Linked DNA regions of Homo sapiens. The protein of the gene in region 1 interacts with the protein of each later gene in a pairwise test. Each region holds a gene or a part of one and is shown on either strand. Other genes may lie near its edges.

The links.
Region 2: the proteins of ROPN1 (region 1) and UBE2W interact in binary tests that used the Homo sapiens proteins (3 or more experiments, as listed by UniProt).
Region 3: the proteins of ROPN1 (region 1) and PRKAA1 interact in binary tests that used the Homo sapiens proteins (3 or more experiments, as listed by UniProt).
Region 4: the proteins of ROPN1 (region 1) and HNRNPUL1 interact in a two-hybrid assay, tested with the Homo sapiens proteins (2 studies listed by BioGRID and IntAct).
Region 5: the proteins of ROPN1 (region 1) and CNST interact in binary tests that used the Homo sapiens proteins (3 or more experiments, as listed by UniProt).
Region 6: the proteins of ROPN1 (region 1) and TULP3 interact in binary tests that used the Homo sapiens proteins (3 or more experiments, as listed by UniProt).
Region 7: the proteins of ROPN1 (region 1) and TSHZ3 interact in binary tests that used the Homo sapiens proteins (3 or more experiments, as listed by UniProt).

Annotation. Positions count from the first base shown.
Region 1 is NC_000003.12:123,968,515-123,971,819, forward strand, and holds the end of ROPN1 (ropporin-1A), read right to left. Parts: intron 1,704-3,305; coding exon 1,528-1,703; intron 708-1,527; coding exon 641-707; 3' UTR 501-640; downstream 1-500. UniProt on the Homo sapiens protein: Important for male fertility. With ROPN1L, involved in fibrous sheath integrity and sperm motility, plays a role in PKA-dependent signaling processes required for spermatozoa capacitation.
Region 2 is NC_000008.11:73,872,363-73,875,862, forward strand, and holds part of UBE2W (ubiquitin-conjugating enzyme E2 W), read right to left. Parts: intron 1-3,500. UniProt on the Homo sapiens protein: Accepts ubiquitin from the E1 complex and catalyzes its covalent attachment to other proteins.
Region 3 is NC_000005.10:40,777,875-40,781,374, forward strand, and holds part of PRKAA1 (5'-AMP-activated protein kinase catalytic subunit alpha-1), read right to left. Parts: exon of another isoform or gene 3,481-3,500; intron 2,465-3,480; exon of another isoform or gene 2,208-2,464; coding exon of another isoform or gene 2,159-2,207; intron 1-2,158. UniProt on the Homo sapiens protein: Catalytic subunit of AMP-activated protein kinase (AMPK), an energy sensor protein kinase that plays a key role in regulating cellular energy metabolism.
Region 4 is NC_000019.10:41,270,872-41,274,371, reverse strand, and holds part of HNRNPUL1 (heterogeneous nuclear ribonucleoprotein U-like protein 1), read right to left. Parts: intron 2,291-3,500; coding exon 2,137-2,290; intron 391-2,136; coding exon 317-390; intron 1-316.
Region 5 is NC_000001.11:246,590,456-246,593,955, forward strand, and holds part of CNST (consortin), read left to right. Parts: intron 1-1,056; coding exon of another isoform or gene 1,057-1,107; coding exon 1,108-1,486; intron 1,487-3,500. UniProt on the Homo sapiens protein: Required for targeting of connexins to the plasma membrane.
Region 6 is NC_000012.12:2,938,765-2,941,638, reverse strand, and holds the end of TULP3 (tubby-related protein 3), read right to left. Parts: intron 2,329-2,874; coding exon 2,195-2,328; 3' UTR 1,110-2,194; coding exon of another isoform or gene 913-1,109; 3' UTR 501-912; downstream 1-500. UniProt on the Homo sapiens protein: Negative regulator of the Shh signaling transduction pathway: recruited to primary cilia via association with the IFT complex A (IFT-A) and is required for recruitment of G protein-coupled receptor GPR161 to cilia, a promoter of PKA-dependent basal repression machinery in Shh signaling.
Region 7 is NC_000019.10:31,279,937-31,283,436, forward strand, and holds part of TSHZ3 (teashirt homolog 3), read right to left. Parts: intron 1-3,500. UniProt on the Homo sapiens protein: Transcriptional regulator involved in developmental processes. Functions in association with APBB1, SET and HDAC factors as a transcriptional repressor, that inhibits the expression of CASP4.

The DNA.
Region 1 (3,305 bases):
AGCTCCTTGAAGGCAGAATTCTGATATTATTTATTTGTATGTGCTCAGAAGCCAGCATAGTTCCTGGAATGCTGCCAGGTTTAGCAAAAACCAAAACAAAACATATTTGTTGTTTGTCTGAAATTCAAATTTAACTGGGTGTCCTGTATTTATTTCTTGCAACCCTATTCCTGGCACATAGCTAACCTCAATAAATATTGATGAGTGAGAGGATGAATGAATGACTAGCACAGTACCAACAAATGGAGAAATAAACTGGTAAAAACTTCAATTGACCATATAAAAGACACTCATCTAAATTATGCCTAACAATCACAGAACAACAACACTGTGTCTGGTTAACATACTACCTTTTAAAATCTGACAGTCTGGCTTTGATTGAAGATGCATTTTCTATCCATGCTTTGTCAGCCACTTTTACTCAGTGTCCATGTGGGAAGAATACTAATCTGGTAATGAAGGTGTTTTGTTCCAACAATTTCACATCTTAATTCTGCACATTTCTGATCTCATATGTTTAATTGTTTATTAGTGTGTACCAGTTGTACAAGAAAATTGATTTTGGGTGGTATATGGGTTTCAGTCATTCTGAAGTACAATCATCTCTGTATCTTCCTTTAAAATTGCCAAAATTGTGCTTTTACTCCAGCTGAACCCTGGGGTTTTGGGTAAAGTCATTCACTGTGATTATACCATCAGGGCCAATTCTGTTTGGAAAAAGGTATATCTGCAGTTAGTTCATTGACAGTTAATCTTAAGAAAGACAATATGCAAACAACTCTCATTTCACATTAATTCTGCTGTTGCTCCTTTTTCTCTTTTTTTGTTTTGTTTTGTTTTCTGAGACAGGGTCTGGCTCTGTCATCCAGGCTGGAGTAACTGGTGCAATCTTGGCTCACTGCAACCTCTGCCTCCTGGGCTCAAGCTATTCTCCCAATTAACTGATACAGACACATACCACCACGCCTAGCTAATTTTTGTATTTTTAGTAAAGACAGGGTTTCACCAGATTGCCCAGGCCGGTCTTGAACTCCTGAGCTAAAGCCATCCACCCACCCTAGGGTTACAGGTGTGAGCCGCCATGACCGGCCCTCTTTTTCTTTTAACCTTTGACTGCCTGCTTCTCCTCCTCCTCCTTCTCCACTTCTGTTCCACTGGTCATAGCTAAGCGTGAGTCAGAGTTACTAGGGGGGCTTATAAATACACAGATTCCTGGGCTCTGGCCCTAGAGTTTATGATTCCATAGGTCCAGGGTGTAGCCTGAGATTCTGCATTTCTAACATCTTCTTAGGTGCTGCTGCCGCTACTGCTAGTCTCAGTAGCACTGAAAGAATTGTTTTCCTATATCATTCTTTTCCTTCCTCTTCTCCTTCCCTTTCCCGTTTTCTTTCAGATCATCCATATTTCATGTTTCTCACAATACTTTTCTGTTTCCAGAGCAGTATAATACAATAATCTCACTATCTTGGCCAGCTAGATTTCTTTTCCTGGTATTCTTTCACCTCCACTTGACAAAAGTTAACTTACACTTCCTGTTCCATGTAGTTTAGCATCCTGCTGACATGTGATGCAGAGATCTCCCCATCCACTTTGGCAATATACGTGTAGAGAAACTGGAAGGTGCTGAACGGGATCCGGGGCGACCCACCATTATGGTCACATGATAAGACCTCACACACTATCTTGAGAGTTTTGGTAATAGTCTATAAAAGTTAGATAAAATGAGGAGAAAGTTACTCTTCCAGGCAATATTCCTGAGATCGGTTTAGATACAAGAAAGAAAACAAAAATATTGCTCTTATAAAATGAAGTGGGAACAATTTAAGATTCTAGAAAGCTTGAAATTTTTACATTCAAATGTCACTAATTCATTCTAAAAAATATTAAGTATTGGGTATCTTTATTTCTTTTCTTTCTTTGTTGGAAGACTACTCAAGGAATTAAATTTATACATTCCTAAGTACTTTAAGATATTTGTTACTTTAGCCCGAATAACCTCACTAAAGGAGGGAAGTTGATTTGCATTCTATATAATTAGAATTATTTCTTCTTATTACCCTCCAGTCTTATCTCTAAAGGGCTGAGATAGATGGTCTAGCCTATATAGTCCAGCAGGATACTTGTGGCAATGACACAGTAGAGGAGAAGAAGGTAGGAGAAGGGTAATTTCCCCAGGAAAATGGAGTCCCAGGAAGATACTGGAAAAATGTTCTTAAACATCAAGATAAACGTTCCTCTAAAGCATCTGGGTCCATCTAAATAGAATCAGCTAGTGCTTTATTTCATACTACATAATACTAACCCTTTTATTGCTGGGGAAATATTGGTTGACAATGAGTGCCAGGAATTTTAATAGAAGGGTTACTACAGAAGCAAACCCTCCTTGCAATGAAACTTGAACATTAAAGGAGCATGCTCAGAACTCATCTCATGTCTTTAAATAACCCACCCTTTGAATAAATGTTACAAGCAAAAGAGTTGTGAAATGAAGGTCACCAACAGATCTTGGTGGTTTACTGAAACTGATGATGTACGGATCATCCTGACACTCTTCCAGGGATCAGTGAAAGATCAGTTCTGAGTGGTGACTTAGGGTGAGTGAAAAAGCAGCTGCTGTATCTTCCCACATGATTAGTAGAGGAGACTTGTCCTGCCTTAGCAGTTGATGTCTGCTGTTCTCCTCTCATCCTCTCCCAGAACAGAATGATTGCCTAGATGAGGCTTCTCTAACTGTGGTGTGTGTTACCCAGGAGCGTAAGTCTATGTCAGGAGGTACTGAGGATGTGAATAAACTCTTCCTTGAGTGATAGTTTTACTTGATGGCAAGTAATTTAAACATAATTTGTAATAATTATTAATTTTAATTGAGTTAATATTTCAAATTTGATTCTTTACATTTAATAAGCATTGTTATTTTATAAAACAGAATCTTCAATACATGATGTCAAAAAAAATTGAGTTTGAGGCAGGCCACCTTCCTTTCCTCTCCTCTGCCCCTGGGGGTCCTCTCATGGAAATTGTTGTGAAACACTGCATCTTCTACTCACTTTCACTTAATTCAGAGCAGGTGGGAGGGCAGGCATGGGGCCAACTAGTATATATGAGGCTGTCTGGGAGGATGGTAAATCATGCATGTGAGATGAGGTCAGTGGGAGAATGGTTTGGGGTAGATTTGCAAGCACACTCTGAACATTATAATTTCCACCCACAGCTCACCCTGTTTCTGTAAAAAACAAACAAATGAACAAAAACAACCCTCTGCACCCCTAATGCTTTGTTCTGTTGCCCTCTCCCATGGGGTGCTG
Region 2 (3,500 bases), on another chromosome or scaffold:
GTTCAGTACCTATAAAGGAATAATTTAAAATTCATATTTATATAATATACCAAAAAAGTGGCTTATTTTCTTGCTGCATGCGTTTGCCATAACTGTAATGTTCTTCATAGTATCTTCATATTCTTTATAAAAAAGGAAGTCAACTAACCTAATTTCATTCTAATAGAGACATAGCAGTAACTGCTGGTAAGTATGTACTTATTTGGAAAGTGACTTACTCAAAATTACACAGTAACTGAGTAGTGAAACTAAGCTCTGAAATCTGTTGATGCTGTGAAGGTGTAAGTAATGAACACAGTTTGGCATCACAGAGAAATCATTGGTGTAATTATGTAACTTTTCAGTCAAGAATTAAGCATTTACTAAACTACTTTATAGTTTTTATAGCTAAAGAAAAGAAGAAATATTCCTGAGTTTATAACACAAGGTTACTTTATGTATCATATTTTAAAAAGAAGTTCTCATGTGTATACTTGTGTACTGAGTAAAATTATAATTGTAAATTTTTACTGTTCAAAGATAATCCTTTTTTTTTTTCCTTTTTTTTTTTTTTGTTTTAGCTGGAGTCTCACTCTGTCGCCCAGGCTGGAGTCCAGTGGCATGATCTCCGCTCACTGCAAGGCGCCTCCGCCTCCTGGGCCCAAGGGATTCTCCTGCCTCAGCCTCTCAAATAACTGGGATTACAGATGCGCTCTACCACGCCTGGCTAATTTTTTTTGTATTTTTAGTAGAGACTAGGTTTCACCATGTTGGCCGGGCTGGTCTCGATCTCCTGACCTCAGGTGATCCACTCACCTCAGCCTCCCAAAGTGCTGGGATTACAGGCTTGAGCCACCATGCTGGCCTATTTTCTAACTTTTAATTATGTTGTAACCCTTCCATACTGACATCAACAAACAGACGTCGTATCTAACTGTCAAGGCAACATGACTACTACAACAGTAATGTCTGTAAGAGTCCATGTTCCATCTCTCTCAATCACTATAGCCAATTACTTGAGCAAAGAGCAGTGGGCTGGGGGCAATGGCTCATCCTGTAATAATCCCAGCACTTTAGGAGGCCAAGGTGGGCCGATGGCTGAGTCCTGGAGTTCAAGGCCAACTTGAGCAACAGGGAAAAAACCCATCTCTACAAAAAATAAAAAAATTAGCCAGGCATGGTGGCGTGTCTATAGTCCCAGCTGCTTGGGAGTCTGAAGTGGGAGGATCACCCGAGCCTGGGAGGACAAGGGTGCAGTGAGCCAAGACCACGTCACTGCACTCTAGCCTGGGTGACAGAGTGAGACCCTGTCTCAGAGAGAAAAAATTTTAAAAGCTGTGAATAATCCAAAATAATGCATTATTTCTAAGTCTGAAAATAAGCACACATTCATACTTTATCTCCTGTTATTAAATCTCAACCTCCTTCCATCCCTACAAATTGACAGTTAACAGTCTAAGACCCAGCTAGGTAAGAGAGGAAGTAAATGCAGAAATTTCACAAGGGTAATTCAACTGACCATTTCTCTCAATTATATCACTGTTTTTAGAGTTGACAAACATCAACTACTATGCACTGACTTTCTAAGATCTTAAGACACAACGTAACAGGAGGTTTTATCTAAAATTAACAATTCTAGAATGTCAAATTAGAAAATTAGACAGCATATATGTTAAAATTGCTAACTTACGAGAAGTCTGAATGAAGCAGTTAAATTCTAAAATCAGAAATTATATCCAGGAGGTCAAGTACTTCATAACATTAAATAATACATAGGAAAGAAAAAAGGTTATAAAATTTAAAAACACGGCCGGGCGCGGTGGCTGACGCCTGTAATCCCAGCACTTTGGGAGGCCGAGGCGGGCGGATCACGAGGTCAGGAGATGGAGACCATCCTGGCTAACACAGTGAAACCCCGTCTCTACTAAAAATACAAAAAATAAGCCGGGCGAGGTGGCAGGCGCCTGTAGTCCCAGCTACGCGGGAGACTGAGGCAGGAGAACGGCATGAAGCCCGGGGATTGGAGCCTGCAGTGAGCCGAGATCGCACCACTGCACTCCAGCCTGGGCGACAGCGAGACTCTGTCTCAAAAAAATAAAATAAAATAAAATTTTAAAAAAGCATTTAACAACAACAACAAAAAATTCAATTTTAGGATTCACCTGAGAAAAGAATACCTCAATACTGCTACACTTTCAAAAATGTTTAGAATCACATAAAAATTCACTTCAATAAAAGAATGCTTCTGCAGTTTGGGGATAAAAGTTTCTACCAAATAATCAGTCCCTAAAACGCTAAAACTAAAAATTTGCTACAAGAAACTTTTCATGTAATATTTAAAGATTTTTAGAATTACCAAAATTAAATGTAGATCTGTTTAACTCCTATCAATTTTAGGTATCACCACAAATATAACATTCTCTTAATGATGGTTTCTTAAGACTGGGCACATAGGCTCACGCCTGTAATGCCAGGATTTGGGGAGGCCAAGGCAGGTGACTGCTTGAGCCCAGGAGTTCCAGACCAGCCTGGGCAACATAGTGAAACCTGTCTCTACAAAATACAAAAACCTGTAGTCACAGCTACTCAGGAGGCTGAGATGGAAAAGATCACTTGAGCCCAGGGAGGTTGAAACTGCAGCAAGCCGAGACAGCGCCACTGCACTCCAGCCTGGGTGACACAGTGAGACCCTGTCTCCAAAAAAGAAAAGGTTTCTTAAAACATAATTTAACTGTAATCTTACTTGGTGATACATTACTTTTTTCTAGGAAGAAACAATAGGAAGGAAAAGAAAAAAAGAAAATGAGTAAAGAATGTCTCAAAGGGATCACATAAGTCTGAAAACCACTATCTTGAATTGTATATGGCAGAACTCTAGCAATATTAGGGAGTAGAGCGTCCCCAGCATTTACAGGTGTGCCAGAATATTGATCTCCCATCCCGGGAGTTTCATGAGGTGCTGCCTGCCAGGTGCTTCTAGCCTCCCAATCTCATCTACTTTAGTGTACTATTCAAAACTTACTTTCTATGTGGGCAGAACCTAAAAGATGGTTGAGACGCACTGACAGAATACATTAAAGCAGTTACTAGCTCAACTTTAAAATACATACTCTCCAATAAGAAATTCAAAGTCTACCCTTACTTGTTTTACTCATTACCAAGTAATGAAATCCCATGTTACATTTGTATAATATGGCATTTTAAAAAAAATACAGTTCCTCTTAGAGCTTAAGTAACTTCAGCAGCAGCAGCAACATCCTGGTGTGGGTTAGATAAATCTACTAAAAGCTTTTTGGGTTAAGGACATGGTCATTCCATGTTACAGCTTATTTTTTCCTAATCGAAATCCCCAAATGATCAATTTCCTAGTCTTCTTCCATGCTTTTTCTCCACTGCACTATCACCTTCTAATATAATAACACACTTGGCCGCGTGCAGTGGCTCACACCTGTAATCCTAGTACTTTGGGAGGCCGAGGCGAGTGGATCGCCTGAGGTCAGGAGTTCAAGACCAGCCTGGCC
Region 3 (3,500 bases), on another chromosome or scaffold:
CCAGCCCGGCTAACATGGTGAAACCCCGTTTCTACTAAAAATACAAAAAATTGGCGAGGCGTGCTGGTACACAGCTGTAATCCCAGCTACTCGGGAGGCTGAGGCAGGAGAATCGCTTGAACCCAGGAGGCGGAGGTTGCAGTGAGCCGAGATCACACCACTGCACTCCAGCTTGGGCAACAAGAGCAAAACTCTGTCTCAAACAAACAAACAAATACAAAAATTAGCTGGGTGCAGTGGTGGCACATGCCTGTAATCCCAGCTACTTGGGAGGTGAAGCAGGAGAATCACTTGAACCTGGGAGGCAGAGGTTGCAGTGAGCCCAGATTGCACCACTGCACTCCAGTCTGGGGTGATGATTGAGACTCTGCCTCAACAAAATAAAAATAATAATATATTTAGACATATTATAAGAGTAGTCATCTAGCATCCTCAGAAAATAGCTAAGCAAATATAAGTTATTTTCTCTTTTGCCAGATTCATCCCAAATGTTCAGATGTTTAAGAGTGATTACATAGGAGAATACATAAGAAATTGGTAACAGTGGTTTCTTCCAGAAGAGAAAGCTAGAAGACTAAAGGAAGAGGGGAAGGAGACTTTTTTGCTGTATACCTTTTCGTATTTTTAAATTCTTTTAATTTTTCACCTTTTAACCTATCATACACACAGACTAAAATTTTTCTTTTAGTATCATTTATATGGATATTAAAACATATAGAAATTGGTGTAACCAGCATTATATAGTCAGATACAGAACAGTTCCATCATCCCAAAAGACTCTCTCATGTCATAGATACATTTCCCCATCCATAACCTCTTATACCTTTGAAATTCTGGTTCATGTGCATGTGGTTTCTAGTTTTTTTGGTTTCTCTGTGTTTTAAATTTTTTTTCCTGTTTTTTAATTTTTTTTTTTTTTTTTTTTTTTTTGAGACAGGGTGTCACTCTATCACCCAGGGTGGAGTGCCGTGTCACAATCAGAGCTCACTGCAGCGTTAACCTCCCCAGGCTCAGGTGATCAGGTGATCCTCCCATCTCAGCCTCCCAAGTAGCTGGGACTACAGGCAGGCCCCACCACACCCAGATAATTTTTTTGTATTTTTCTGTAGAAATGATGTTTTACCATATTGACCAGGATGGTCTCAAACTCCTCAGTTCAAGCAATCCACCAGCCTCAACTTCCCAAAGTGCTAGGATTATAGGTGTGAGCCACCATGCCCAGCCTCTATTTTTTTAAATGCAGTTAAAAATAAAGGGAAAAAAAAAATCAAGTCATTTTATCTTTCCATTTTAAATGTTATCACTAGACAGTCGGTGGTGACAGAATTTGGGTTTAGGACATAATCCCAAAAGACACAATCCCAAATGCCATAATCCCAAATGTTGAAATCCCAAAAGATCAAAATCCCTAAAATCTAAAATTCCAAAAATCACAATCCCAAAAGAACAAAATCCAAAAAATTGAATTCTGGAAAAATAATTTGTAAAAAGTTCTCTAAAAGACACTTATTTCCATTTTTAAAAGATTTATTTGAGAAACATAAAAACACAACGGAACAGTTCATAGGCCCCTTTACACAATAAAATAGGCACTAATAACATATTTTTGCAAGCATAAATACTCAGGTATACTAACAACCATTGCATGGGTATAATAGGAACAGAGAAAATGTATTCATGAAGAAATAGATTAAAAAGCAAAATGGATAAACACGTATCACTATGGTTGGTAATCAGGTGCACCCAGATTCATAACTGCGGTCATCTGAAATACCAGACAACCTGAATCTTCTGACAAGATCGATCAAAAACTGCAATGGGTCACTACCGTTTGCACAAAAACTGCAATAGAGTCACCCAAAGAGCCAAGATCTTGAGAAATTTTATCTTTCACAAATACAGATGAACAAAACGGACATCTCTTCATTTACTGAGCAAGTTTCAACATTTTTATGTACATGCACAATGCTTACACATTACGTCACATTGTGATAATGCACTTTCATGGAGTCAAATATGCAAAAAAAAAGTGCATAAAATGAATTAGAATTCTCTAAAAGCCTTTACAGAATTTATACCTGCAGTATTAGAAATGATGCAAAGATAAAATACATAGCATAGCAAATTGGCACTATGTGTGAAAGGGCAGAAGTCATACCTGATTGAATAATTTGGCAGGGGAGCTTTCTTATATTTTTCACCTGCATATTCACTTCTATGATCTTCAAAACATTCACTTGTGTTTAGACTAGAGCGGTTGTGGTCTAAATATTTTGTAAGTATATGCTGACCATTTAGAAATCTGGTTATTGCTTGGCCATTGCAATTAAGTGATTTTCTGTCTTCACAACACCAATAATAATTAGCTTTTAAACTTTTCTCTTTCAGCATTAAGTAGCCTGGTATACTTAATTTATCACAGCCTTTTTGCAAGGGAACAATTTCACAGGTCTCTTCCACTGTGCTGTAAGGAATACAGTAAGAAGGAATGATATTTGGCTTTCTCAATACCAAATCCGTATTAGTCAGCATTCTCGACAGACATAATTCTCGACAGACAGCATTCTTGAGAGACATAACCAATAAGATATATATATACATAGATATATGAGAGACGATTTATTAGGGGAATTGGCTCATGCGATTATAGTGGCTGATAAGTTCCAGGACAGGTCATTTTCAAGCTGGAGACCCTGGCATGCTGGTAGCTTGGCTCAGTCCAAAGACCTCAGAACCAAGCCAAACCAGGTCTCAGTCTGAGGCTGAAAGCCCAGGACCCAGGGGGCTGCTGGTGTATGTCCTAGAGTCCAAATGCCAACAAGCCTGGAGTTCTGATGTTCAATTCAGCAGAAGAAAAGTCCGTTCCAGCTCTCAGAAAGGCAACAATTTGTTTTCTCTGGGCCCCCAGCAGATTTAATGGTGGCCACCGCTATTGAGGGCAGATCTTCCCCACCTAGTCCACTCAGACTCACATACTAATCTCCTCACAGACAAACCCAAAATAATGCTTTAACAAGTTTCTAGGTATTTCTTAATCCAGTCAAGTTGACACCTAAAATTAAATCCATGAATCCACCCCTCGTCAATTTGGCACCCATAAACCATCTCCTTAAACCATACTTAATTTCCAAATAAATACAATAAAAAGGCAATCGGTTCCACCTAATATGATGCAAGTAAAATGATGCAACTATCTTTCATACAACCGAATGTGCACTAATTTCTACCCCAGGTGTTGGCTTTCAGCATTTCAACATTTGGGATTTTAATCTTTCATGATTCTGATTTTCAGGATTTCAGATGTGTGAGATTTTTAGAATTTAGGGATTCTGATTTTTAGAGATTTTGATCTTTCAGTATTTCAACATTTGGGATTATGGCATTAGGGATTTGGTCTTTTGGGGATATGATCACCAGTAGAATTTAGACAGTCATGAGGCTAAGTCTCCAAAAATTTAACCTTTGTGCACCCTTTCTCAGGAACCTACTGGAGAATATAT
Region 4 (3,500 bases), on another chromosome or scaffold:
TCAGGGTTTTCCAGATTGCTCCTATATCCACTGAGGAGTCTCCCTGAAAATCCTCTGAGGTTAGTACAGCAGATTTACTCCTTCCTGAAGGGAAGCTCAGAGAAGTAGAATGACTTGCCCAGGGTCCCACTGCTAGAGTTGGGAGTAGGTCTTTTGCCTCCAAACCAGTACTCTTGCTCCAGAGCTAAGCCGTGTCTCACATGTGGACTAACAATGTCTTTGGACGGTGCCCAGCAGGGATTCTGGTGAAGGTCAAGACCACAATTTCCCCATACTGACTGTAAGGCAGAATTAGATGCACACTCCAAAGACTTACAGGTGTCAATAGCAACAAGGGTATCATCAAAGTCATCTTCATCCTCTTCAGCAGGAGGCTGAGGAGAGCGGCCCCTGTATTAGAAACAGGGGTTAAGTCATACAAGAACAATGGATGAGCACAAAGGAAAGAAAATGAATGTTCTGCTGTAATCTATGAGTGGCCTCCAGACTGCTTCCTGAATCTCCATTTCCTTCCACAGAGGTGGGCAAAAGAACTCTGAAACCCTACATCCTTGCAAGGAGAGCAATGACCGTCAACTCCTACGGTGGAGACAGGGATTGAAGAAGGCATGCTCTGCTGAAGGGGGGCATCAGAATCATTTAGGGAATTTTTTCACTCTTTTTTTACACCCAAAGATTCTGATCCATACCCTCTGCATGTTGACAACCACTTCCACACTGATCTCTGTTACTGTTTGGAGGCTGTGGTATCCCAAAAGGGTGCTGGCCAGGAAGGGGAATGTGCAAGAGCCTATATAAATCCCAATAATTACTATCTATCCATGTACCAGGCTTCTTAAAATCCTACATCTGTAAGAATTTGAGATGACCCATTTTTTTCAGTGTCCTAAATTATAAACGATATTCATTTTCCTACCAAAACGCTAAAAAAGGGACTTAACACTGTTGGTTTCTGCTGTACAGGAACGAGGAAGAAGGGTAGAAAGGTAGAATCTAACACTCAGGGTCCTGCCTGGACAGTCTGGGTGGTCGCAGTGCACTGCATGCACAGATGGGGAGCCCATGCCCATTTGGCTGCTGACTCTCCCAGCAGCAGGCTTCCCTCTGGTGGAGGGCCCCTCTGGCCTCGCCAGGCCAGGGCTAACATGGATGAGCTGTGCTCATCACATGTTAAGTCCATTCTAGGAAACTTTCCCTGCCAGCCCAGGATCAGAGCGAGTGTTCTTCCTTTGCTCTCCATCAGTAAGTAGCTTCCAGGCTTCTGCTCTGTGGGAGGCAGTGGAAGAACCCCATATGAGGTGGGATCCATGTCCTAACTTAAATCATAGCCTGTGAGATCCAGGCCCTGTCTCAGACAGTAACAAGCTAGTTAGAAGGTGGACTCCGCCAGATAGGAAATAGAATGTCAGATGACTAGTCCAGATGAGTACAGTGGCCATTCCTAGTTTTCATAATTGCAAAAGGCTTCAGACAGGAACTGAAGGAAGGAAGGAGGGAAGGGAAGGACTTGGTCTGGAGGGAAAGGAGGGAAGGGCTTGTTAGGGAAGGGAAATGACCAAAGCAGAGGCTGCTCCCTCTTCTGAACTCCTGAAACTCACCTGCATCCTGACTACTCACCTCAGAGGTTGTGGCTTACTAGTGTATGTGTCTGAGTCCCCACACTGGAACAACAGAAGGCAAAACCCACTGTCCATCTGTATGTTGCTAGTGTCCAGCCCAAGAGTGGGCACTTCGTGACAGCACTGTGAGAACTGACTGAATGAGTGGATGAATGGGAAGAGGATGTGTATTTGGGAGTAGTGTTAGGAAACAGATATTTCTTTCATTACGGGTATCAAGCAGCTGACTGCAGGGGCAGTAAGGCAAAGGACAGAACAGGCAGGCTGGCATCTCACGCGTGAAAGTCTAAGATATTTAGAAGTTACCCTGCAGGTAAGAAGGGAGGAACTGGGGGAAGGACCAAAAGTTTAGGAAAGCTGAATCTGGTAGCAAGTACGGGAAGGGACAGGAAGAGTGTGAAAGCAGAGGGAATCTTTACTCAGCCCCTCTAGGTTAGTGCAAATGTCCCCAGCAAGCACGAGGCTATGGATATAGAAACCTACCAGAGCAAGGGTGACTGCTGCCTCATACACCCACCTCCTATCCTCTCGGTGCTCAAAGTACCCCCGTCCCCGGTTTTCTTCATAAGGCCTCTTTCGACTCTGGAATTGCTGCCTGTCTGGCTTGAGTTGAGAAGCTTCAGGCGGGAGGAAGCTGGTGGGTGCTCCTTGCTTCATCTCTGTCTTCATTTCTATTGTCAAGACAAATTCAGATGGTCAAGACACTCGCAAGCTCCCCAGCTATCACTTTTCTGGTCCCTTTTCCCTTGAGAGATGTGAGCAGGATCCTCACTACAGTGATGAAGGGCTGGGCACAGGCAGCTTGCTGAGTTCAACAGAAGCCTGCTGAGCCAGCCAAGAAGGCCATACTGGAGAACAGGGTTAGGATCTGAGATACCATGACCCTAAATTCTCCAATTTCTCTTCCCAAAGAACCTCTCTGCCTTAGTTCTTACAAAGCTTCTTCAGTCTGGCAAGGGAGGGGGAGAGGATGAATTCAACAGGGTACTGTGGTCCTGCAGCTAACTCTACGGGCTTTAGTTACCCTACCAAAAGAGGCCAGAATCACTCCGGTTAAGCCATCCCATAGGTGCAATAACCTCTTTAAGTCATACCATTAACAGAAAGTCAGGATGGGATACCGTGCTGTGGACCACGGGTAAGTCCTAGTCTCAGGCAGACTCCAGGAATCAGTGCCTAACCAAGAGCAAACCACAGATGTAGGCTACCTTCATTTCTCCCACAGCATTAATCCCTGATGCTGAAGCTCATTCACATCTACTCATTTCTGCATTCAACCCCAGACCATTTTGGATCACTCCCCAGCTTCGGCATGTGGACCACATCTCTCAGAAAAGTCTCCTGGTTCTCTAGGGCTGGGATGGTGCTCAGCCATCCTGAAGAGAGCTTCCCTGGTTCCCAGCAATAGGTTGGGCTCACACAGGGCTCCTGATGAATGTCTGTGGATAACGGCACAGAAAATATTCTCCTGTGGCTGAATGATCCTACAAGTCTCACAGAGCCTGACACAAATCTGCGGTTTAACCTACATTCAGTAAAGTTCTGAGCCACCCACAAGAAATGTCTGGGGATTTAACTTTGTGGATGAACCAGAATGGCGTTAGACAAAATCAACCAGATACACTAAGAAAAGGCACTGGGAGGCCACAACACAGTAAAAGCAGCACAAAACTGGGGGTCAGTCCGGGCTCCATCAGTTCTCAATAGTGGGACCCTGCTTTCCAAATAGTAAGGCACAAATGATAAGGAATGCTGCTTATTAACCAAGAGGACTAGCCTGGGAGCAAGTATGCTAGGTTGTAGCCCCAGCTCTGCCATCGGACAAGCCAACTCCTCAATCTATAAAATGGGGAGGAGAGGCCAGGCGCAGTGGCTTACACC
Region 5 (3,500 bases), on another chromosome or scaffold:
TGTCTTATAAACTAGGCAAAAGTGGGAGAGAGGAGGGCAGCAGGAGAAGTGGTGGTCTCCTTCCTTAATGGTATAGGGTGAATATTTTATCTTGTACTTTTCATGGTTTTAGAGACTGTACTTTACATGTTTCTAAAGATTAAGCATTTCTACTCATTAAGTTGAAGAATCTTTAGAAGTCCTCTCACTGAGGTTTTTTTCCAGAATTACTGGATTATTTCTTTCATACCTATCATTTTTCTTAAAATGTAATACACTTGTAGATAATAAGAGGAAATAAAAGATGACTGATAAAGGGCTTGCAGTCTGTTTTGTAAATTTTAAAAATATTAGTGGTATCCTTCAAGCAGATTTAGCATTTCTTCCAATTCTACACTAAGAGTAGCCTAGAGTTAACCATGGCCTTTTTTTTTTTTTTTTTAAGTGTTCAAAAGGATTTTGATGACAACTCTAAGGTACCTTCCAGGGCTTATTTTTAGGAAATAAAAAATAAAACGATAGTATAAATATATGCTACCTAAACTTCCCCTCACATACTTTTTTCTAGGTTATTTTTTTTTAAAATCTTCAAACATTTTCATTTCCAAATATTGCTGCTGTTTAGCCAGAGAAGAACTTATACAACTAGCTTTCAGTTGTCTGCTGAGTGTCCAGGGATTAACATAAGAGACTAATTTCAGCACATAACCTATTTAACTAGTCATTTCATTCAGGCAGTGGTCCCAACCTGATGCACATTAGACTTACCTAGAGAACTTGAAAAATAGTGGTGCCTAGGTTCCATCCTCAGAGATTCTGATGTAATGGTCTAGAATAGAATTTGGGCAGCCTCTCAGGTGATCATCATGAGGAGACAGGCTTGACACCTGTAGTATTCATGTGAGAACTAGCTGAGTTTGGGGTTGGGTTGCATATGGTGAAAGGGAATGAACTTAAGTCATTTCCTTCTCTTCCCTATTTACAATGAAACAACCTAAGAGAAGGGGAAAATCAAAGATCACTGAGAATCTGCAAAGGTTAGAAAATGAAGTAGCTTTTTTCTTTTTGTCATTGTAGACATGGAAGGTCTTTAATGTAACTTTAAATGGTTCACCAAAGGATGCTCTAATGGATGACAGCGATACTCCTACATATTATCTGCAAATAGAACCACAAGATGGATGTCATCCTGGTGACAGCGTGGAAAGGAGTGTGACCTGTCTGCCTTCTGCATCAGATGAAAATGAAAATCAGCTTGACGGGGACGGGCATGAGCATCTGACCAGCAGTGACAGTGCGATGGGAAAGCCCCAAGTGTCTGAGCAGGACAGTCTCAATAATAATGAAAGCTGCACATTGAGCTGCGAGGTGGCTGCAGGTGAGAACTTGCAAAACACCCTTTGTGAAGCCTCCAGAGATGAACAGGCCTTCTTGGGAAAGGACAAAAAAATTCCTGGAAAAAGAAGTCCAAGAAGCAAAAAAGGGACTGCTAAGAAGATACCACCAGGTATTGTTTAAAATAGTATTTATCCTCTTCTTTAATTAATTAAAAATGAACCTCCTTCCCTCCCATACTGTGTTTACTGTCCTGCACCTTGCTTCTTTGCTTACGATATTCTGGAGCTAGTTCCGCCGCAGCACAAGTAGATCCAACTGCATGATATTCCAGTGTGATACGTCTCCACACTGTTCCACCGTATGGGTGTAACACAATTTATTTAATCACTTCCTTATGGCCCTTCCCAGTCTTTTACTATCATAAACAGTGCTGAGGCCGGGTACGGTGGCTCACGCCTGTAATTAGCACTTTGGGAGGCCGAGGTGGGCGGATTACCTGAGGTCGGGAGTTCAAGACCAGCCTGGCCAACATGGTGAAACGCCATCTCTACTAAAAATACAAAAAATGAGCTGGGTGCAGTGGCGTGTACCTGTAATCCCAGCTACTCTGGAGGCTGAGGCAGGAGAATCGCTTGAACCTGGGAGGCGGAGGTTGCAGTAAGCCAAGATCACGCCACTGTACTCTAGCCTGGCTACAGAGTGAGACTTCGTCTCAAAAAAAAAGAAAAGAAAAAGTGCTGAAATTGACATCCTTTGTACATGTTTTCACATTAGGTACTTTAAATATATGCAGCCTCCTCTCCCTCCTTTATAAATTAGACCATTTTCTACCAATATCAACCTTAAAAATTGCCTTCTGTCATTCCTGTGGCTTTGATCCCTAACCTGTGAGTTTAGATGCTACTGTGACCTCTTTATAGATCTTTCCATCTCACTCAGCAGGTAAATAAAATACAGGAACATATATTAATGTACAATTTAATATGTAGTGTTGAATAAGACATCTGGTTCTAATTATCTGTATCACTTTGGTTAAAAAGTAATTCAGAGTATTTCTTGTTTGGTATGCAGTTTGGCAGTTGAAGTTTAGAGCTATGGAATTTTTGGCCTGAATCACAGGGCCCCCTTGGGAAAAGGCAGCCTCTGGTTATTTTTTTTATCAGAAACATATGGGACTAGAAAGTTTTGGTATGCCCTAGACTGGATTCCTTAGTGTAGTACCACTTTTTACCCAAGCCAACAGATTTTACATCAGACTCTAGTGAACTAAGTAGAATGCCTCTTCATCTTCTGTTCTCTTCTTTGGTTAATTAGAAATATATCTGTCTATATCGTATTTTTTATTTGTATTTTTAAAATTTGAAGTAAAATACAAAACTTTTCAGTTTCTACAAAATCCATATTTATTCAATAAAGTAATTTGAAAACTTTTTAATATAATTCATAATCTGGCTTTCTGGTTAATGTAACTCATAATTTGGCTTTTCACGTCCCTGTATCTTTTTCTTAGTAGACTCAAAATAATTTTTAACCAGGGATATGAAAGCTTTTTTTTTTTTTCTTTTTTTTGAGGCGAGTCTCACTCTGTCACCCAGTATGGAGTGCAGTGGTGCAATCTCAGCTCACTGCAACCTCCGCCTCCTGGATTCAAGCAATTCTCCTTCCTCAGATGATTCTCCTGCCTCAGCCTCCTGAGTAGCTGGGATCACAGGTGTGCACCACCATGCCCAGCTAATTTTTTTTGTATTTTTAATAGAGACAAGGTTTCACCATGTTGGCCAGGCTGGTCTCAAACTCCTGACCTCGTGATCCGCCCACCTCTGCCTCCCAAAGTGCTGGGATTAAAGGCGTGAGCCACCGTGCCCAGCAAAAGCATTTCTTAAAAGATCTAATAAGCAGAGGATATTTACAGTACTATGTATATATAAATCAGTTTATTCTATAACTATCATTCAAGGGCAAATTCACCAGGCCTCTCAATCTGATTTTGTGATTTTATTTTATTTTCAAGACAGGGTTTCACTCTGTCACCCAGGCTGAAGTGCAGTGGCGTGACCATGGCTCTCTGCAGCCTTGATCTCCCAGGCACAAGCGATTCTCCCACCTCAGCCTCTGGAGTAGCTCGGACAACAGGCATGTGCTACCATGCCTGACTAATTTTTCTTTTCTTTTTATTTTTGTAG
Region 6 (2,874 bases), on another chromosome or scaffold:
GTATAGTGTGTCTAGGTAGCCTCCGGAACACAGCCTTCTTAGTCTGCAGATTCCTGCTCTACATCAGGATGAGAAGTTTGTTAGTAATCACCTGGTTTTACAGAACTGATGTGTTACCAAAACATTTTTTTTTCTTTTTTTGAGGCGAGGGTCTCACTCTGTGGCCCAGGGTGGCGTGCAATGGTGTGATCTCTGCTCACTGCAACCTCAGCCTCCCAGGTTCAAGTGATTCTCATGCCTCAGCCTCCTGAGTAGCTGGGATTACAGACATGCACCACCACACCTAGCTAATTTTGGTATTTTTAGTAGAGATAGGGTTTTGCCGTGTTGGCCAGGCTGGTCTCCAACTCCTGGCCTCAGGTGATCCGCCTGCCACAACCTCCCAAAGTGCTGGGATTATAGGCGTGAGCCACTGCACGTGGCCCAAGATGACAATTATGATTATATAACATGACAGTAGGAACTTCCTGAGGCATAGGACTTGCAAAGGCAGTGACACATTTTTATATAAATTAACTTTTATTTCTGTAACATATAAAAGGTATAAATAGGACTTATGTAAAAACCAATCACCTGCACACACAAATTATGTGAAATTAGTTTATATATCTCTTTAAACCAGAGGGAGGAAGAAGCAGGATGAGGTCCACCTGGCCCACCATAAGTCCTTCCCCACATGCTGTCGTGTATTAATAGCTTCTGTGGCCAACCAGGGTTATCTGCCAGGCAGTGCCTCAGGATGGGGTGGGGGGTGGTGGTGGTGACGAGGTGTGAGGCTTCTGGGCATGGCTGTGAGGGAGGCACTTGGTGGGATACATGCCTGAGATGGAAACAGTCTCGTCCTCACCCAGCAGGTGGGACTTGTCGGTGGGGGACAAGCCAAGGGTCCCGCAGCTGCCAGTTGGCCCTCCTTCACATGCTTATCTGATGTGGTGCAGGAACAACAGGCGGAGGTGAGAGGTCAGTCCACAGAAGGGAGGTCTGAGGGAGCAGCCGCCACGGGTGTCCCACCCAACGCTGGCAAACAGTTCTGTGCACAAGGGATGCAGCTGAATGGTGCTGACGGTGGAGCTCACAGAGCTCCTGCATTCTCAAGGTTTGGATACATTCTGGGAAGGGTGAACTGGTGTAAGAGTCACATAATACGTGGAGGGGTGTAATAATCAAAAAAACGTAGCAAAACACCTTCTGTGCCTGAGCCAGGGTTGAGGGAGCCGAGAAGAAAGTCCACAGCTCTGCCACACGGGCCAGCAGTGCTCATGTCTGCTGGCTGATCCTCCCCAAAGCCTCTCCTGCCACCTTTTTTTTTTTTTTTTTAACTAAACTAAATGGTCAATACTGCCATCTCTCTTGATAATGACAAAGTGTTTGCACAGGATGCCTACAGGTGTGTGTGTCGCTCCTCACTAATGGATCCGTAGTCATATAGCTGTGAGAGGCACTCCTGGGTTGAAAATGAAGGCAATTATCACATTACTGTCAGTCCTGACTGAGTCACCTCTAGAGTTTATGCTTTCAGCCTTAATTGAAATGAAGACAATTATATAAAATTCTCACATAATTGATCACAAATGTGATCACAGCCACTCTTGACTAAGATTGGTGCCGGCCAATCTGCTGTGAGGGAATGAAGAGAGGAGAGGAACTGCGATGTCAGTCCCTGATTCTACTGCAAGTTTCCAAGCACATGAAATCCCATTCTAGCTTTGGAGACCCCAATGTGACAAGAATCTCCCTGTGCTTTAAATCATCTCTCACCCATGCTAAGCTGTGATCCCTCACCAAGTCTATGAAACCTGGAAAAGGAGTGAGAGTGCGCGGGGTGTGTGTGTGTTTTATATATTCAGGGGTCGTTCCAAAAGGGGCAAACTATTGCTCTTCGTGTGTGTGTTTTATATATTCAGGGGTCGTTCCAAAAGGGGCAAACTATTGCTCTTCGTGTGTGTTTTATATATTCAGGGGTCGTTCCAAAAGGGGCAAACTATTGCTCTTCGTGTGTGTGTTTTATATATTCAGGGGTCGTTCCAAAAGGGGCAAACTATTGCTCTTTGTGTGTGTGTTTTATATATTCAGAGATCATTCCAAAAGGGGCAAACTATTGCTCTTTAAGTCCTGGGGCAGGGAGGGGAAGGGGAGGCCACTGTCTGCTCCTGAAAGCTCTGTGGGGAGAAGGGCTCCCTGCCTGACTGTTCTCTCATTCACACGCCAGCTTACTGTCAAAGCTAGAAAGACCGATGCCAAAGGCCTGTACTGCACAAAGTGGGTAGTTGTAATCCAGTGTGAACACGTCATCTGCCACACGTCCAAACTGCATGACTATATAATCAGCTAGAAACAGAAAGAAATCAACATGTTAGAATATAATGTGGTTGCACTCAGGGAAATCTTTTTCTTTTTCTTCCTTTTCTTAGATGGGGTTTTGCTCTGTCGCCCTGGCTGGAGCCTAGTGGAATGACCACAGCTCACTGCAGCCTTGACCTCCCGTCCCAGGCTCAAGTGATCCTCCCACCTCAGCCTCCTGAGTAGCTGGGACTACAGGCAAGCGCCACCACGCCTGGCTAATATTTTACTTTTTGTGAAGATAGGGTCTCACTATGTTGCTCAAGCTGGTCTCAAACACCTAGGCTCAAGTGATTCTCCTGCCTCGGCCTCCCAAAGTGCTGGGATCCTATTTATGATACAGAAAGAATCCTCCAAATAGGCCAGTTAATCACCAGGTTTCTGTAGAATAGAGAGCAGCTTGCTGGGAATGTCATAAACTCCGCAGGCTAGAGCTGCCAGGAACCTTTATTGGGGTCATTTGCCTTTGTTTCCCAAACAACCTACTCTATGACTTCTCTGATTTTTTATTTTTTTCTGAGACAGGTTCTTGCT
Region 7 (3,500 bases), on another chromosome or scaffold:
GTGGTGTTTCTTTGGAGCAAAAAAAAAAAAAAATCTGCTCTTCAAACATAATTTGCCACCTTATTCTTCTCAAGGGGCAACAGCTTGAAATTAAAACTAAATTTGAAATTAATGAAGCACATTCTGGAGGTGGCATTCATTTCTAAAGTAATAAATTACTTGTATCAACCTCAGAGACAGCAGTTCCTGTCTGTCAATTAATATGTCTTATGCTTCTCCTACCCCTAATGCATTTCTTAACAGACAGATTCACAATTTAAATTAAGCAAGCATTTTTTACTCATTACATTTTTGAGGCTCAATCTTTAATAAATATAAAGTATAAAAACATCAATAAAATTTTTACCAAGTAAAAAGAAAAGTACGTCCATTGTAATAAGGGAAAAACAAGATTTTGTGGCTTTTTTTTTTTCTTTCTTCCTTCTGGAAAAGCAGGTCTCAGAAAAGCTTAGAGGTAGGTTTCCTGGCAGGGATAGGTGTGGGTTCGTTCCAGTTGAGAGGAAATACCCTGACCAGCTACCACCCAGCCCCCAGCCCTGTCCCCCATGTGAACACTCAGCCGTTCTCAGCCACCTGTGCACACACACTCTCCATGCAGAATTATGTCACAACAAGTTCAGGAAAATTGGTATGCGGTGCTCATTCCTGATGTATAAATATATACAAGACCTTCCAGTGGACCTTACAAATGTCAAAGTGTTTGCTCTTTAGACTACTTTGTCAATATTTACTCAGTATAAGCTTCATGGGCATCCAACAGAGATCCTGTCTTTCTGGAAGCGATGTAACTGGGATGTAAATCCAGCATGCATTCCCACGCAGGTGGAGGGCAGGCCACGCGCCTGCAGGTTCTGGAAGATGCACGTCCAGAGACACAGAGCCCAGAGAATACTTGCGTTAATGCAACAGGGTGTTTTTTTTGTTTTTGTTTTTGTTTTCATTCTCTTGCATTCGGTGACTTGGGTTATTCCTTACTAAACTGATCTGCCACTGCATACTGCATCAGGGTAGTTTTTTGGACAGTGAGGAGTGGCCAGCCCTGTGGCTAGGAACAATTTCAAGGTAAAGGAAAAGGAGAAATAAAGTGACTTTGTCCTGTCAGCTTCTAAATACTTGTTTGCTTCAAAAGGCCAGTGGGGAAGTGTGTTAAGTGGTTGGAACGTTGCAGTGCTAATTGCAAGGCTGATTTCTACAAAAAGCTCTTAAGAAAGGAAGGGAAGTTTTGTTTGTGGAATTGACTCCACCAGCTTTAAAGATTTGCCCCTGTTCCATTTCACATCAGAAAACCAACAACAACAATAAACAAACAAACAAACAAAAACAGTGAAATGAGTCCCTTGAAGTCAAGCAGATAGGCCCCCCTCATTCCTTCCAGGACAGGTGTGATTCTTTTGCTCCTAAGCCCCCTACTTTGAGTGCCAAGATTCCTAAGCCAAGACACATGGAATCCCAACACTGATGTAATGTGAACTTGGATGGGAACTGCCCCAGGTACACACATCAGCTGCAGGGAGGGGGATACTTCTGCTCATTTGCCAACTACTAAGCAAGAGTCTTGTCCAGGAGCCATGGATGTTCTTTACAAATGACCAGAAGAGAGTGCCCTGCTGCAGTCAGCTGAGTGTGAAGTGCTGTGGGGAACCTCAAGTTTAAGGCCATGCACTTTGAGATGACAAATAAAGACAGCAAAAGCTCTGTTCCTAGGGCCAAGACCAAATGCTTAGGGAAATACGGCGCTGGCCAATGGAGGCTCCTGTGCTAGCCACAGTGAAGACTGTGAATGCATGTGTTGGAAAAGAATAGGAAAAGAAAAAGAAAAGAAGACATCTCACTCTCCCTCACCTGCCCCCCGACAGACTTCCTCGGCATGCAGCACATTCTAGAAATCTGGACTCAAAACTCCAATGGAGTGGCAGGCCTGGAGGAAGAACAGCCGAGGTAGAATAACCAAGTGTCCCAATTTGCCTGGAGCTGTCCTGGTTTCAGCACTGAATGTCTTGCATCCTGGGAATTTACTCAGTCTTATGCAAACTGAAGGATGGCTTGTTACCCTAGCTGGGGCACACAGTATGACTGAGGTCAGAGCATCCAGGTGGGTCTGCAACCTCTCTTATAATCCTCTCGGGGAACAGCTGGAGCAGAGTAGGCTGGGTTTAGCTAGACACAGCCCACTGTCTGCAGAAGTGCACCGGGTGCATGCATATATGATGTTTCCATAGTACGGTTTTATTGTAAACGGGGAAAGAGGAGGAAATCCCATGGCTGGTGTCCCTCCCACTGAGACTCAAGGAAATGCCCAGGCCTGTGTAGATGGGTGAAGATATCAAAGCCCCTTCTGTCCTGGAGATGCCTCTTGGAGCCACAGTCTGCAATACAAACCCCACACCCTGGGGATTTTGCTCCTATTACAGTGGCTCCCATGAAATTAAGTCTGAGAGAGAAATGGCCCCACAGCAGCCACTACGAGAGGACACCAGCAGCCAGAAGCAGCAGAGCCAATAGTGGACATGAAAGAGTCCTCTGTGGGTGAAGGCCACCAGGTGAGAGGGAAACCCAGGGGCTCTGCCAGCCCACATTCCACCCAGGGGCAATGCATCTCCCCATGGCCAGAGCCTTCCCCACCCCCACTGCACAAGCACCAAACCAGCCCAGGCCGTCCGGAGCACCCCTCCCCAACACATGCACCATGAATGATATGACCAGCTCCTCTCCTGGGCTGGCCCACAACACGCTCTGATATGCTTTGTAAACTACACAGCAGGGTCAGAATGTCATCAGTCTGATGACTGAGGAGGAAATTAATATGGAAAGAAAAGGCCAACCTCTCAACCTCCCTGGTGGAACAAGATCCAACTCAGAGGAGAATTAAAAGGCTCTGGTGCCAAGCAGAACTGGGTCCTGGAGAGACCTGGCCTCACCGCACACCCCACTCCTGACCATGTCATGGTTTCTGAGGGTTCTTTCAAGCGCACACCCTCGTGGCTGTGACGTGGGCCTCACTCCCTGTTCAAATGACCATTTTCTTTTCCGATCTGAAGGTGAGAAGTATTTCCTTAGGTGGAGCCTAAGACTTTTACCCACTGGTTCTCCCCTCCACATTAAAATAAAGGGAAGGGCTGGGCGCAGTGGCTCATTCCTGTAATCCCAGCACTTTGGGAGGCCAAGGCAGGCAGACTGCCTGAGCTCAGGAGTTTGAGACCACCTTCGGCAACATGGTAAAACCCCATCTCTACTAAAATACAAAAAAATTAGCCAGACATGGTGGCACATGCCTGCAGTCCCAGTTACTCCAGAGGCTGAGGCAGGCGAATCACTTGAACCCGGAGGTGGAGGGTGCAAGTGAGCCATGACCCACCACTGCACTCTAGCCTGGGCAACAAAGCAAAATCCTATCTCCAAAAATAAATACATAAAAATAAAGGGAAAATTCCCATCTTCCACCATGCTTTGCAATAATTTCACTACTCTGAGAATATTTATACTCTTGATTACTGAACTTT